Linked DNA regions of Homo sapiens: region 2 is linked to region 1. The links come from fine-mapping of genetic effects on gene expression. Tissue or cell type: prefrontal cortex. Region 1 holds a variant in brackets; the other region holds the start of a gene. All regions are shown on one strand. Distances are from middle to middle.

Region 1 (6,416 bases):
TCACACTCGCCCATTCACACTCATCAGTTCACACTCATCCACTCATTCATTCTCTCACCCATTCACATCCATCCACTCATCCACACCACTTCACACTCACCAATTCACTAATTTACACACCCGTTTACACTCATCCACACCACACAATTCACACCAATTCACAAATGCACAATCACCAGTTCACACCCATCCACACTCATTCACACACAGTCTCACGAATTCACACCCATCTGCACTACTTCACACTCACCAATTCACTAATTCACACTCAATTTATAGTCATCCTTTCACAATCATTCTCACGCTCATACTCGTCCTCCCCTCCCAGGCTCAGGCCATCCTGTCACAGCCTTTCCTAGCTGGGATCACAAGTGTGCACCACTACACCTGGCCTAATTTTTATTTTTATTTATTTTTTTTGAGACAAAGTCTTGCTTTGTCACCCAGGCTGGAGTGCAATGGTGCAATCTCAGCTCACTGCAACCTCTGCCTCCTGGGTTCAGGCGATTCTCCTGCCTCAGCCTCCAGAGTAGCTGGGACTTCAGGCGTGCACCATCATGCCCAGCTAATTTTTTTATTTTTATTTTTATTTATTTATTTATTTTTGAGAGGGAGTTTTGCTCTTGTTGCCCAGGCTGAATACAATGGCACGATCTCAGCTCATCGCAACCTCCGCCCCCTGGGTTCAAGTGATTCTCCTGCCTCAGCCTCCAGAGTAGCTGGGAGTTCAGGTGCCCACCACCATGCCCGGCTAATTTTGTATTTTTAGTAGAGCTGGGGTTTCTCCATGTTGGTCAGGCTGGTCTTGAACTCCCGACCTCAGGTCATCTGCCCACCTCAGCCTCCCAAAGTGGTAGGATTACAGGCATGAGCCACCATGCCCAGCCTTATTTTTGTTTTTTATTTTGTTTTTGAGACAGAGTTTCACTCTTGTTCCCCAGGCTGGAGTGCAATGCTGCAATCTTGGCTCACCTCAACCTCCATCTCCCAGGTTCAAGCGATTCTCCTGCCTCAGCCTCCCGAGTAGCTGGGATTACAGGCGTGCACCACCATACCCGGCTAATTTTTGTATTTTTAGATGGGATTTCTCCATGTTGGCCAGGCTGGTCTTGAACTCTCGACCTCAGGTAATCCGCCCCCACTCAGTGTCCCAAAGTGCTGGGATTACAGGGGTGAGCCACCACGCCTGGCTTTTTTTTTTTTAATATAGAGTCTCACTCTGTCACCCAGGCTAGAGTGCAGTGGTGTGATCTTGGCTCACTGCAACCTCTGCCTCCTAGGTTCAAGAGATTATCCTGCCTCAGTCTCTTGAATAGGTGGGATTACAGGCATATGCCACCATCCCCAGCTAATTTTTGTATTTTTAGTAGAGATGGGGGTTTCACCATGTTGGCCAGACTGGTCTCGAACTCCTGACCTCAGGTGATTTGCCTGCCTTGGCCTCCCAAAATGCTGGGATTATAGGGGTGAGCCTGGCCTTATTTTTTTATTTTTGACTGGGTCTTGCTATATTGTCCCGCCTGGTCTCCATAATCCTGGGCTTAAACCTCCTGCCTCCACCTCCCAAAGTGCTGGGATTATAGGAGTGAGCCACCGCACCCAGCCGATTTTTCTATCATAATTGCGTACATCAAATTTGTAATTATAACCAAGGTAGAAATGTTACATGTAACAGCCGACCTCCCTTGGTGAGGAGGGAGAAGCCACCACGGAGGATCCAGGATGTGCATTCCATGTGGCAGCCGTGGCCTGGCCCTCGCCTGAGGCTGGTGTGACAGCTGCCCTAAGACGTGCCCAGCCGGGAAGGGAGGCGGATGCAGAGTCCCAGAGGTGGAGTCTGACCCTGCAGGTGGAGCCACCGCAGGTAACTGGCAGCACTCAGTGTTCTTTGTTCCCGATTTTAAAATTGATCAGGCATGGTGTCTCACACCTCTAATCCCAGAACTTTGGGAGGCCGAGGTGGGTGGCTCACGAGGTCAGCAGTTCGAGACTAGCCTGGCCAACACATTGAAACCCCGTCTGTACTAAAAATACAAAAATTCGCCGGGCGTGGTGGCTCATGCCTGTAATCCCAGCACTTTGGGAGGCTGAGGCAGGTGGATCACAAGGTCAGGAGTTTGAGACCAGCCTGACCAACATGGTGAAACCCTGTCTCTACTAAAAATACAAAAATTAGCTGGGTGTGGTGGTGCACACCTGTAATCCCAGCTACTCCAGAGGCCGAGGCAGGAGAACTGCTTGAACCCGGGAGGCGGAGGTTGCAGTGAGTCGAGATTGCGCCACTGCACTCCAGCCTGGGCGACAGAACGAGACTTCATCTCAAAAAAAGAGAAAAAAAGCCGGGTGCAGTGGCTCACGCTTGTAATCCCAGCACTTTGGGAGGCTGAGGCGGGTGGATCATGAGGTCAGGAGATCAAGACCGTCGTGGCTAACACGGCGAAACCCCGTCTCTACTAAAAAAAATACAAAAAATTAGCCAGATGTGGTGGCGGGCGCCTGTAGTCCCAGCTACTCGGGAGGCTGAGGCAGGAGAATGGCATGAACCCAGAAGGTGGAGCTTGCAGTGAGCAGAGATTGCGCCACTGCTCTCCAGCCTGGGCAACAGATCGAGACTCCATCTCAAAAAAAAAAAAAAAAATTAGCCAGGCGTGGTGGCGGGCACCTGTAATCCCAGCTACTCGGGAGGCTGAGGCAGGAGAATAGCTTGAAACTGGAAGGCAGAGGTTGCGGTGATTCTGAGATTGCACCACTGCTCTCCATCCTGAGCAAAAGAACAAAACTCTGTCTCAAAAAAAAAAAAAGAAAAAACTGATGGATCTCGCCTGTAATCCCATTGCTTTGAGAGGCCGAGGATCGCTTGAGGCCAGGAATTTGAGGCTGCAGTGGGCCAAGATGTTTGCACCACTGCCCTTCAGCCTGGGTGACACAGTGAGACCCTGTCCTTTTGTTTTGTTTTTGAGACCGAGTCTCACTCTGTCGCCCAGGCTGGAGTGCAATGGCACAATCTCGGCTCACTGCAACCTTTGCCTCCCAGGTTCAAGCAGTTCTTCTGCCTCAGCCCTTGGAGTAGCTCGGACTACAGGTGCACACCACCACACCCGGATAATTTTTGTATTTTTAGTAGAGATGGGGTTTCACTCCTTTCTTTTTTTTTTTTTGAGACGGAGTCTCGCCCTATCACCAGGCTGGAGTGCAGTGGTGCAATCTCGGCTGACTGCAACCTCCATCCCCCAGGTTCAAGTGATTCTCCTGCCTCAGCCTCCCAAGTAGCTGGAACTACAGGCACCTGCCACCACGCCTGGCTAATTTTTTGTATTTTTAGTAGAGACGGGGTTTCACCATGTTGGCCAGGATGGTCTCCATCTCTTGACCTTGTGATCCACCCACCTCGGCCTCCCAAGGTGCTGGGATTACCGATGTGAGCCACCGCGCCCAACCCTTTTTTTTTTTTTTTTTTTTGAGATGGAGTCTCACTCTGTTTCCCAGGCTGGAATGCAACGGCACGATCTCGGCTCACTGCAACCTCCACCTCCCGGGTTCAAGTAATTCTCTTGCCTCAGCCTCCCAAGTAGCTGGGACTACAGGCACCTGCCACCACGCCTGGCTAATTTTTTGTATTTTTAGTAGAGACAGGGTTTCACCATGTTGGCCAGGATGGTCTTGAACTCCTGACCTCAGGTGATCTGCCCACCTTGGCCTCCCAAAGTGCTGGGATTACAGGCGTGAACCATCTTGCCTGGCCGAGACTTTGTGGCTTAAAAAAAAAAAATTACAGAAGGTGGCCCTGGGGCCTAAGGTCATGATTCCGGGGCGATGTGTGTGTACCAGGCAGCCCGTCTCACTGCATTTGCATGTTTAGAACAAGCCAGATACTACTCGAGAGGAGGCAGATGATTTGTGAAATGTTTCTGTATTTTCAAACCTTCTTGCCTGTAGTTTTGAGTCTCAGTGCAACAATTATGCTTCACCCCATCTCAGCAGTGTCCTGACTCTGTTGTCCAGGAGGAGGAGACAGTGGTGGTGGAGGGCAGCTCTCCTCTTCCGGGCCTTCCGACAACCGATCTGGGATCCACAGACAGCCCTGCCTCCTCGGGGCTGCAGGAGGAGGGACCAACACGAATGCAGGCCATGGCTGCCGGGGACGCTGGTCAGGATCAGCAGGAAAACAGTCAGCCAGGGACATGGCCGGGAACAGTC[G/A]CCACAAGCGGCTATAACGGATTAACACATTTTCTTTTGTTTTTGATAAACAAGTTTACTTGTAAATTTAGTCAGCATACATAACTAACCAAAACTTCAATATATCTTGAGACCCCCTTGGGGGGCTGTCTCCATAAAAGTGACTTTCCCAGGAGAGTGACTGGATGTGATTGGCCAACACCGTCTTAGCCCGCAGGGGTTCCTGGTGCCGAAGCCTCACGTCCCTCCCCACAGCGAGTTTTCAGAATCCAAAGGCCGTAGGAGAAAGAAGGCTGGCGGTGTTTCCTCTTAGAGGGGAGAAACTCAGCCTGGGTAGGAGACCCAGCCCCACGCAGGGAAAACTGTGCTAACGCTTCCGATGTGCGTGGCAGGTGCGGCGGCGGCGAATACGGTTTGTCCTCGAGCCTAACCCTGTCTGTGTTGGTGTCAGCAGTGGCCCCCCTACCACACACACAGGGTCCCTGGCGTCCCAAGACCACTCCTGGCAGCCCCGCCACTGGCTGCGCCTGGAAGCCGCGTCCTCAGGCCTCGCCTGGCATTTGCTGTCACAGAGGTTGCTTCCTTGGGTCCGTCCGTCCTCGCCCCTCCAGCCTGGGCGCCCCCCGACCCCTGTCTCATTCCCTCCACCACATGCAGCACAGTCCAGGAGGCTGGGGTCCAAGAGGGCCATGGCTGGCACCCGGCTTAGTGCTGAGTCCCCAGTGCCCAGCAAGCCTGGCACCCAGGAGGTGGTCAGCAAACGCTTCTGAACGACAGGAAGTGGGACTCTTCAGCCATCGATGATCCGCTGTGCGGCCACAGGTCCGTGTCTCTGTGTGTGTCTTTCCATGTGTGTCTGTGTGTGTCTCTGTTTCTGTGTGTGGACCTGTGTCTGTGTGTTTGTGTTTCCGTGTATCTTCTCTGTGTGTCCGTGTGTCTTCATGTGCATGCATGCGTGTCTCCATGTGTGTCGTGTGTGCGCATGTCTGTGTTCGTGTTTCCATGTATCTGTGTCTCCGTGTCTTCATGTGCATGCATGTGTATGTGTCTGTGTCTTCGCGTGTGTGCATGTGTCTGTGTTTCCGTGTATCTCTGTGTGTCTCCGTGTCTTCATGTGCATGCGTGTCTGTGTCTCCATGTGTCTTCGTGTGCATGCGTGTGTATCTCTGTGTGTCTCCATGTGTGTCTTTGTGTGTGTGTGCATGTGTCTGTGCACACTCATGGGAGTGAATATGGGCTTGGCTGTGCTGCTTGTGGCTCTGAGTGCCTGTGGTTTTTCTTCCCAATGAGACGGGCTGCCTGGAATGTCCGAGTCACCAGGAATGGCAGCCAAGATCAGATCCTCAGTGCGGGCCGTGGGGCCAGCTGACCCCTCTTGCTCCACCCCAACCCCCAGAGGTGGGGCTAGGAGGACGGTCCAGGGCGCTGGTTTGGCTGGGGGCTTAGCCAGAGCACAGTGATGCCAGTGGCTTTGTCCTGGTTTGTCCTCTTCCCAGAGGGAGAAAAATGCCAGGCCAGGCTGGGAATTAAGTCACACACCCACAGCTCTGCAGACCACCCCCCAGCGAGCAGAGGCTCCACAGTCCCAGCCCAGGAAGGTGCAGAAGAGGCACAGGTCACTGGCCCTGGGAGGAGCAGGTGACCTGGTCACTACCAGGCCTGCTCTTCTCTGTGGCTGTTTCCCACTGAGGGCCGGACAGGGAGGGTCAGGGAAGGGGCCTGATGGCCTCATCAGCCTTTTGTTCCTTGCCCAGGGCCCCATGGGGGTCAGCTGCCCCCAGGTGGCCCTCTCAGAGGTCAGGGCCCTCTCAGACGACAGCCTCTGGCCTGCATCTCCGCTGGCTGGGTCCCCGAAAGTGTGGCTGGAGGCCACTGCCCGGAGAGGGACGGCCCTGCAGAGTGAGGCGAGCCCTGGCCTGAGGCTGTCGTGCGGACCAGGCGCCCCTCTCAGCCCTGCACCCAGAGCCGGGCCCTCCCAGACCCGAGGGCCAACCCTGTCCCCCCACCAAACTGCTGTCCGTCCTCCCTCCATGGGGAGAGAGGGAACAGGGAGAGTGACGGAAGGAGACAGAGACTGCAGAGGCCAAGGCCCCAGAGTGTGCGACGGAGACAGACATGGGCGGGCGGGCAGCTGCCAGCACTAATACAAACCAGTTGGAAAAACAGGAGGAGAGGCCAGCAGAGGCCTCGAGGCCAGCCAGGTGGGGCTTGTTTTTCCAGAATGAAAGGCCCAGGGAGGG
Region 2 (6,416 bases), 59 kb before region 1:
CTGGAACTCCTGGTGTCAAGTGATCTGCCTGCCTGGGCCTCCCACAGTGCTGGGATGACAGGCATCAGCCCCCGCGCCCAGCACAGTCCCTGACGTCTGTCCGTCTCCCAGGGCTTTATTGCACGTCAGCAGTTCCAGCTCCATTTTCTTTTCTTTCTTTTTTTTTTGTCGAGGAGGAATTTTTTGCTCTTGTTTCCCAGGCTGGAGTGCAATGGCACGATCTCGGCTCACTGCAACCTCCATTTTCCAGGTTCAGGCAATCCTCCTGCCTCAGCCTCCCGAGTAGCTGGGATTACAGGCGCACACTACCACGCCCGGCTAATTTTTGTATTTTTAGTAGAGGTGGGGTTTCACCGTGTTAGCCAGGATGGTCTCAAACTCCTAACCTCAGGTGATCTGCCCGCCTCGGCCTCCCAAAGTGCTGGGATTACAGACGTGAGCCACTATGCCCAGCCTCCAGCTCCGTGTTCATAATTAATTGACAGGAGTAGGTGTCTGTGAGCTGAGCCGTTCCCTGTGAGGCCTTCTAGTGGGCTCCATCCCTTCCAACACCTTCCAGGCCTCTCCAGCTCACCTACTTCCTTCAGACTTGTGAACAAGAAGGAGAGTGGTACCATGTGGCGTGTGACATCTAGCAGGGCAGCAGAGGCCTCCCTGCAGTGTCCCTACAGCGCTGGGCACGGTGGCTCACACCTGTAATCCCAGCATTTTGGGAGGCTGAGGCGGGTGGATCACTTGAGGTCAGGAGCTTGAGACCAGCCTGGCCAATTTGGTGAAACCCCGTCTCTGCTACAAATACAAAAATCAGGCCGGGCACGGTGTCTCATGCCTGTAATCCCGCACTTTGGGAGGCTGAGGCGGGTGTATCACCTGATGTCAGGAGTTCGAGACCAGCCTGACCAGTATGGTGAAACCTCCTGTCTTAAAAAAAAAAAAAATACAAAACTTAGCTGGGCCTGTTGACACGTGCCTGTAGTACCTGCTACTCGGGAAGCTGAGACAGGAGAATTGTTTGAACCCGGGAGGAGGAGGTTGCAGTGAGCCGAGATCAAACCATTGCACTCCAGCCTGGGCAACAGAGCGAGAATCCATCTCAAAAAAAAAAAAAAAAAAAAAAAAGTTAGCCAGGCATGGTGGTGGGCGCCTGTAATCCCAGCATTTTGGGAACCTGTGGAAGGCGGATCACTTGAGGTCAGGAGACCAGCCTGGCCAACATGGTGAAACCCTGTCTTTACTAAAAATACAAAAATTAGCCGGTCATGGCGGTGGGTGCCTATAATCCCAGCTACTTGGGAGGCTGAGGCAGGAGAATCACTTGAAACTGGCAGATGGTGGTTCCAAGTGAGCTGAGATCACACCACTGCACTCCAGCCTGAGTGACAGAGTGAGACTCCGTCTCAAAAATACAAATAAAAAGTTTTAAAAAGTTGCAAAACCTCTGCTTTCTAAGTGCCCCCCAACCAGGTCTCTCGCTTATTCATTCAACAAACACTGCTGAACTGCTACTAAGTCCCAGGGACTGTCATCGGAAAAGGAGGTCCCGATCCAGACCCCGAGAGAGGGTTCTTGGACCCCACACAAGGAAGAATTCGGGGGAGTCCACGGAGTAAACTGAAAGCAAGTTTAATAGGAAAGTAAAGGAATAAGAGAAGGGCTGCCCCATAGGCTGAGCAGCGGCCTGGGCTACTCCGACGAGAACACTTATTGTTGTTTCTTGATATGTACTAAACATGGTGTGGATTATTCCGGACTTTTCCGGGAAAGGGGCAGGCAATTCCCGGAAGTGAGGGTTCTTCCCCCTTTTAGACCATCTAGGGTAACTTCCCGGCATTGCCATGGCAACTGTAAATGGTCCTGGTGCTGGTGGGCGTGTCTCATGCTAATGTATTATAATCAGCACATAATGAGCAGTGAGGACTGGCTGTCTTGGTTTTGGTGGTTTGGGGCCGGCTTCTTCACGGCATCCTGTTTTATCAGCGGGGTCTTTGTGATCTGTATCTTGTGCTGATCTCATCCTGTGACTAAGAATGCCTGACCTCCAGGGAATGCGGCCCAGCCGGTCTCGGCCTCATTTTACCCAGCCCCTGTTCAAGATGGAGTCGCTCTGGTTCGAACGTCTCTGCAGAATCACTCCAGGTTCTTTGGATTCATGGCAAAGGGGCTGCGGCCTCTGCCCCTCCGTGCCCCACTGTGTGTGGGTCCTACAAGCATTGCAGAGGCAGCTGTGGCTGCCCCCACTGCGGTGGAACCCGGGAGACGGGAGTCTTGGGAGGGGCCTCCTCGAGGTCCATTCTAGCCGCTGTACCCCTGGGAAGCTGGCGTGAGGTAGTTTCTGTGGCCTCCCTGGCCCTGATGAGTACGGGACTTTCCACCCAGCCCCCAGAGCTCCTCGCTTCTTTCCCGGTCAGCCTTACGGAGCTTTCCTTCTAGAAGAGGAAGGCAGACATTTAAATAAACACATAGATACTTTCCTGTAGTGATAAATGCTAAGAACAAACTAAAACAGGGTTAGAGTCGCACGTTGCCTCAGATCCACCTGTGGTCAGGATCTGGGAAGGTGACGGATGAGTAGCCTGATGAGGTTTGTAGGGCAGGGTCTGTGTGGCTTGGGGGGTGGTGGGATGGGGCCCCTGGTCCCTTGGGCCCTTGGAGAGGCAGTCCTCTAGGGAGTGGGGGAGGCCAGACCAGGGCCCTCAGGAGACCCTGTCCTTGGGGACCTGGGAGGCTGAAGGGGGCTGGGGTGGGAATGGGTAGCCCTCATTACCTTTCCCGTGCAGCCGCTGGAGGGGCCAGGCTGCTGCAGCCACCCCAAAGAGCCATGCTCCCTTCTCCTGCCTGGCCCCAGGTACTGGGAGACAGGAAGATGCCCTCAGCACCAGCCCCACCCATCCTGCCCCAGGCCCCCAGGATCCCGCTGCCCCAGGCCTTGCTGGGGCAGAGCTGCTTTTCCAGATGCAGACGCACCCTAGCAGGGATTCTCCCCACTCTCCCGCCTGCCCCCCGACCCCCGCCCCCACCTGCCCAGGCATCTGTCCCTTCCCTGGCTCCAGACTTGCCCCAGCCAGTCCCCAAAGGGTTTTCGTCCCTCCCATGCCAGCGCCACCCTCTTTTCCAGGCCACCTGCCTGGAGTCCTTGGTGAATCTTTTGTCCTGTCCAGCATTTACAGAAAGGAAGGCCAGAACCTCACCCTGCCCTCCTCCCCAGCCTGGAATCGGGAGGAGGGGCCGGCACCCACCCCTGGGTGGGCTTAGCCAGCTGGGACAGGAGTGGGTGAGGGGGCTGCCCGAGGGTGGGCCCCATGGAGAGCCCTGTGAGGCCTTCCAGGGGCACATCGGGGTACATCCAAGGCTGCGCTTCCTGGGGGAGGTGGCGTCTGAGCAACTTTCGTCCACAAGCATGTTCCTGCTTGTCCTCCCCAACCGCCTGGCCTTTGTTCCCCAGGAGGGCAGCCGAACTGGGGCCCTGGCAGCCAGCAGGGGAGGGAGTATGTTGGACAGGGGGCTGTGCCCGAAGGCAGGGCCTTCCTAAGTGGCTGAGTAAACAGCGTCAGGTGGCCTCAGCCTGGCCCAGGGGACCAGCTGTGTTCTCCCACCCCCTGCAAGGCTGAAGCTGCCACCATTCAGCTTTTCAGCAGCAGACACTCCACCCCAAAGCCTGCAGAAGGGATTTTGTGAAGAGGGTCACCAGGCTGAGCCTCGGCCAGAACCCGTCTACAGAGGACCCTCAGCCAGAGCAGAAAGCTCCTGAGCCAGCTCCCTTGGGTAACAGAGCCAAGCCCCTCTGAAGGCTAAGTGGTAACTGGAATGGGGGGCTCCAGTTGGCCTGGGACACGGCTGGGGGCAGGCCAGAGGCCTCCACAGTGGATGTAGGATCCCTGCTCCCCCCCAGATGGACTCCCAGAGGCCTGAGCCCAGAGAGGAGGAGGAGGAGGAACAGGAACTGCGGTGGATGGAGCTGGACTCCGAAGAGGCCCTGGGAACCAGGACAGAGGGGCCTAGTGTTGTCCAGGGCTGGGGGCACCTGCTCCAGGCCGTGTGGAGGGGCCCTGCAGGCCTGGTGACGCAGCTGCTGCGGCAAGGTGCCAGCGTGGAGGAGAGGTGCACCTGCGCTGGGGGGTGAAGGGGTCCCTTCTCTGGGTGGGGCAGGATGGGGGTCCCAGCACTGGGTGGGTGGAGGAGTCCCTTCTCTGGATGGGGTAGGACGGGGGTCCCAGCGCTGGGTGGGCGGCAGGACGGGGTGGGGCAGGGCGGGGTTCTGGTCAGTGGTCCACCCCCGCGCCGACGCCCTTGCCCCCTCCTCAGGGACCACGCAGGCCGGACCCCGCTCCACCTGGCCGTGCTGCGGGGCCACGCGCCCCTGGTGCGTCTCCTGCTGCAGCGAGGGGCCCCGGTGGGCGCGGTGGACCGGGCGGGGCGCACCGCGCTGCACGAGGCCGCCTGGCACGGACACTCGCGGGTGGCCGAGCTGCTGCTGCAGCGCGGGGCCTCGGCGGCGGCTCGCTCCGGGACGGGCCTCACGCCGCTGCACTGGGCCGCTGCCCTGGGCCACACGCTGCTGGCCGCGCGCCTGCTGGAGGCTCCGGGCCCGGGACCCGCGGCAGCGGAGGCGGAGGACGCGCGCGGCTGGACGGCGGCGCACTGGGCGGCCGCGGGCGGGCGGCTGGCGGTGCTGGAGCTGCTGGCGGCCGGCGGCGCGGGCCTGGACGGCGCCCTGCTCGTGGCTGCCGCTGCGGGGCGCGGGGCGGCGCTGCGCTTCCTCCTGGCGCGCGGGGCGCGGGTGGACGCCCGGGATGGCGCGGGGGCCACAGCGCTGGGTCTGGCGGCCGCCCTAGGCCGCTCCCAGGTACGTCCCGCCCTCCGCCCGGCAGTGATGGGAGGGGGCGCAGGGCCAGGATCCCCAGAGACGTGCCACCGGGGCAGCTGGAGCCAGGCTGGGGGACGGTGTCCAGGCACGAAGGCCCTGAGCGCGCCCCCGGCTGTGCCCCTCCGGTGTAGCCCCGTCCCGTGGAGACCAGGGCGGGATCCGAGGCCCGGGGCTCGGCTTCATGCTGGTGGCAGCAACAGACTCTCCGCCAGCGCCGGGCCTGTGCCTGAGACCCCCGTTCCTGGGCAGCGGGCAGGGTGTTGGCTGCAGATCCTTGGATTTGCTCTAAGGACTCTTAGGGGGAAAAGTGGACGTTTCCAAGCAGGCCAGCCTTGGGTTCGGCCTCACAACATGAGGAAGTGGTGTCAGGAGAGACAGGCCGCTGCGGGGACAGAAGAGGCCTGGGCTGGGCAAACGCCTGGTGGCTCTGCCCCTCGCCTACCGGGCTGAGGCCGGCCCCTGCTTTTCTCTCCTCTTCTAGGACATTGAGGTGCTGCTGGGCCACGGGGCAGACCCAGGCATCAGGGACAGGCATGGCCGCTCTGCGCTGCACAGGGCTGCCGCCCGAGGACACCTGCTTGCCGTCCAGTTGCTGGTCACCCAGGGGGCCGAGGTGGATGCGCGGGACACCCTGGGCCTCACACCCCTGCATCACGCCTCTCGGGAAGGCCACGTGGAGGTTGCCGGCTGCCTGCTGGACAGGGGTGCCCAGGTGGATGCTACCGGCTGGCTCCGAAAGACCCCCCTACACCTGGCTGCAGAGCGAGGGCATGGGCCTACCGTGGGGCTTCTGCTGAGCCGAGGGGCCAGCCCCACTCTGCGGACGCAGTGGGCCGAGGTGGCCCAGATGCCTGAGGGGGACCTGCCCCAGGCGCTGCCTGAACTTGGAGGGGGGGAGAAGGAGTGTGAGGGCATAGAGTCCACGGGCTGAGCCAGACAGCAGGCTCCAGGCTCCACCGCCCCAGTGATTTCCAGGCTCTCTGGCTGAGGCTGCCTGCCTGGAGGGGACATCAGGGAAGAGGCTTCCGGAGGAGGGGATGGGAGAAAGTAGGGGATGTGGCTTGAGCTGCAGTCACAGGCCTTGGCTGGACCAGGGATGGCCCCCAGCTCCCAGGAGGGCCCACTGACCCTGCAGCTCCAGCCTTCTCCATACTTCAACAAAGAATGAGTTGTGGCAATGAGGGAAGAGAGACCCTCTCATAGTGTTTTATACTCAGTACCTGTTTTAAGAAAAAACAACAAGGAAGTAAAACCAAAGACAGGCAGGCAGCCTGGCGCTAGGCCCGAAACCAGGCCTGCGCCTGCCTGGCCTAAACCCAGTAGTTGAAAATCAATTCATAACTTAGAAACCGATGTTATTCATAGATTCCAGACATTGTATAGAAGAACATTTGTGAAACTCCCTGCCGTGTTCTGTTTCTCTCTGACCGCCGGTGCATGCAGCCCCTGTCACGTACCGCCTGCTTGCTCAAATCAATGACGACCCTTTCATGTGAAATCTTCGGTGTTGTGAGCCCTTAAAAGGGACAGAAATTGTGCACTTGGGGAGCTC

Alleles and levels. Alleles are on the strand shown, and positions count from the first base shown. SD is a standard deviation of normalised expression in the study named.
For the expression in prefrontal cortex of the gene that starts at base 3,619 in region 2, G is the low allele of the variant in region 1 and A is the other (large effect, 1.4 SD a copy in ROSMAP).

Evidence for each region. PIP is the estimated chance that this variant, and not a neighbour inherited with it, causes the effect.
Region 2: it holds the start of ANKRD65, and the variant in region 1 is the best candidate, but not a certain one, in a credible set for the expression of ANKRD65 in prefrontal cortex (ROSMAP, PIP 0.81).

The regions. Positions count from the first base shown.
Region 1 is chr1:1,359,824-1,366,239 of GRCh38, reverse strand. It overlaps a transcript of MXRA8 not described here. Among named protein-coding and RNA genes, the nearest start is that of MXRA8, 4.5 kb to the right of the region's middle. The variant G/A (reference allele first, on the strand shown) is at 4,198.
Region 2 is chr1:1,418,479-1,424,894 of GRCh38, reverse strand. It overlaps ANKRD65 (ankyrin repeat domain 65), which reads left to right and starts at 3,619. Exons shown (of 4, transcript NM_001145210.3): 1 at 3,619-3,762; 2 at 3,890-4,098; 3 at 4,303-4,843; 4 at 5,346-6,416. The coding sequence starts at 3,890. The coding sequence ends at 5,795. It overlaps ANKRD65-AS1 (ANKRD65 antisense RNA 1), which reads right to left and starts at 4,729. Exons shown (of 2, transcript NR_187360.1): 1 at 4,331-4,729; 2 at 1,608-2,426. RefSeq lists an enhancer at 5,950-6,399.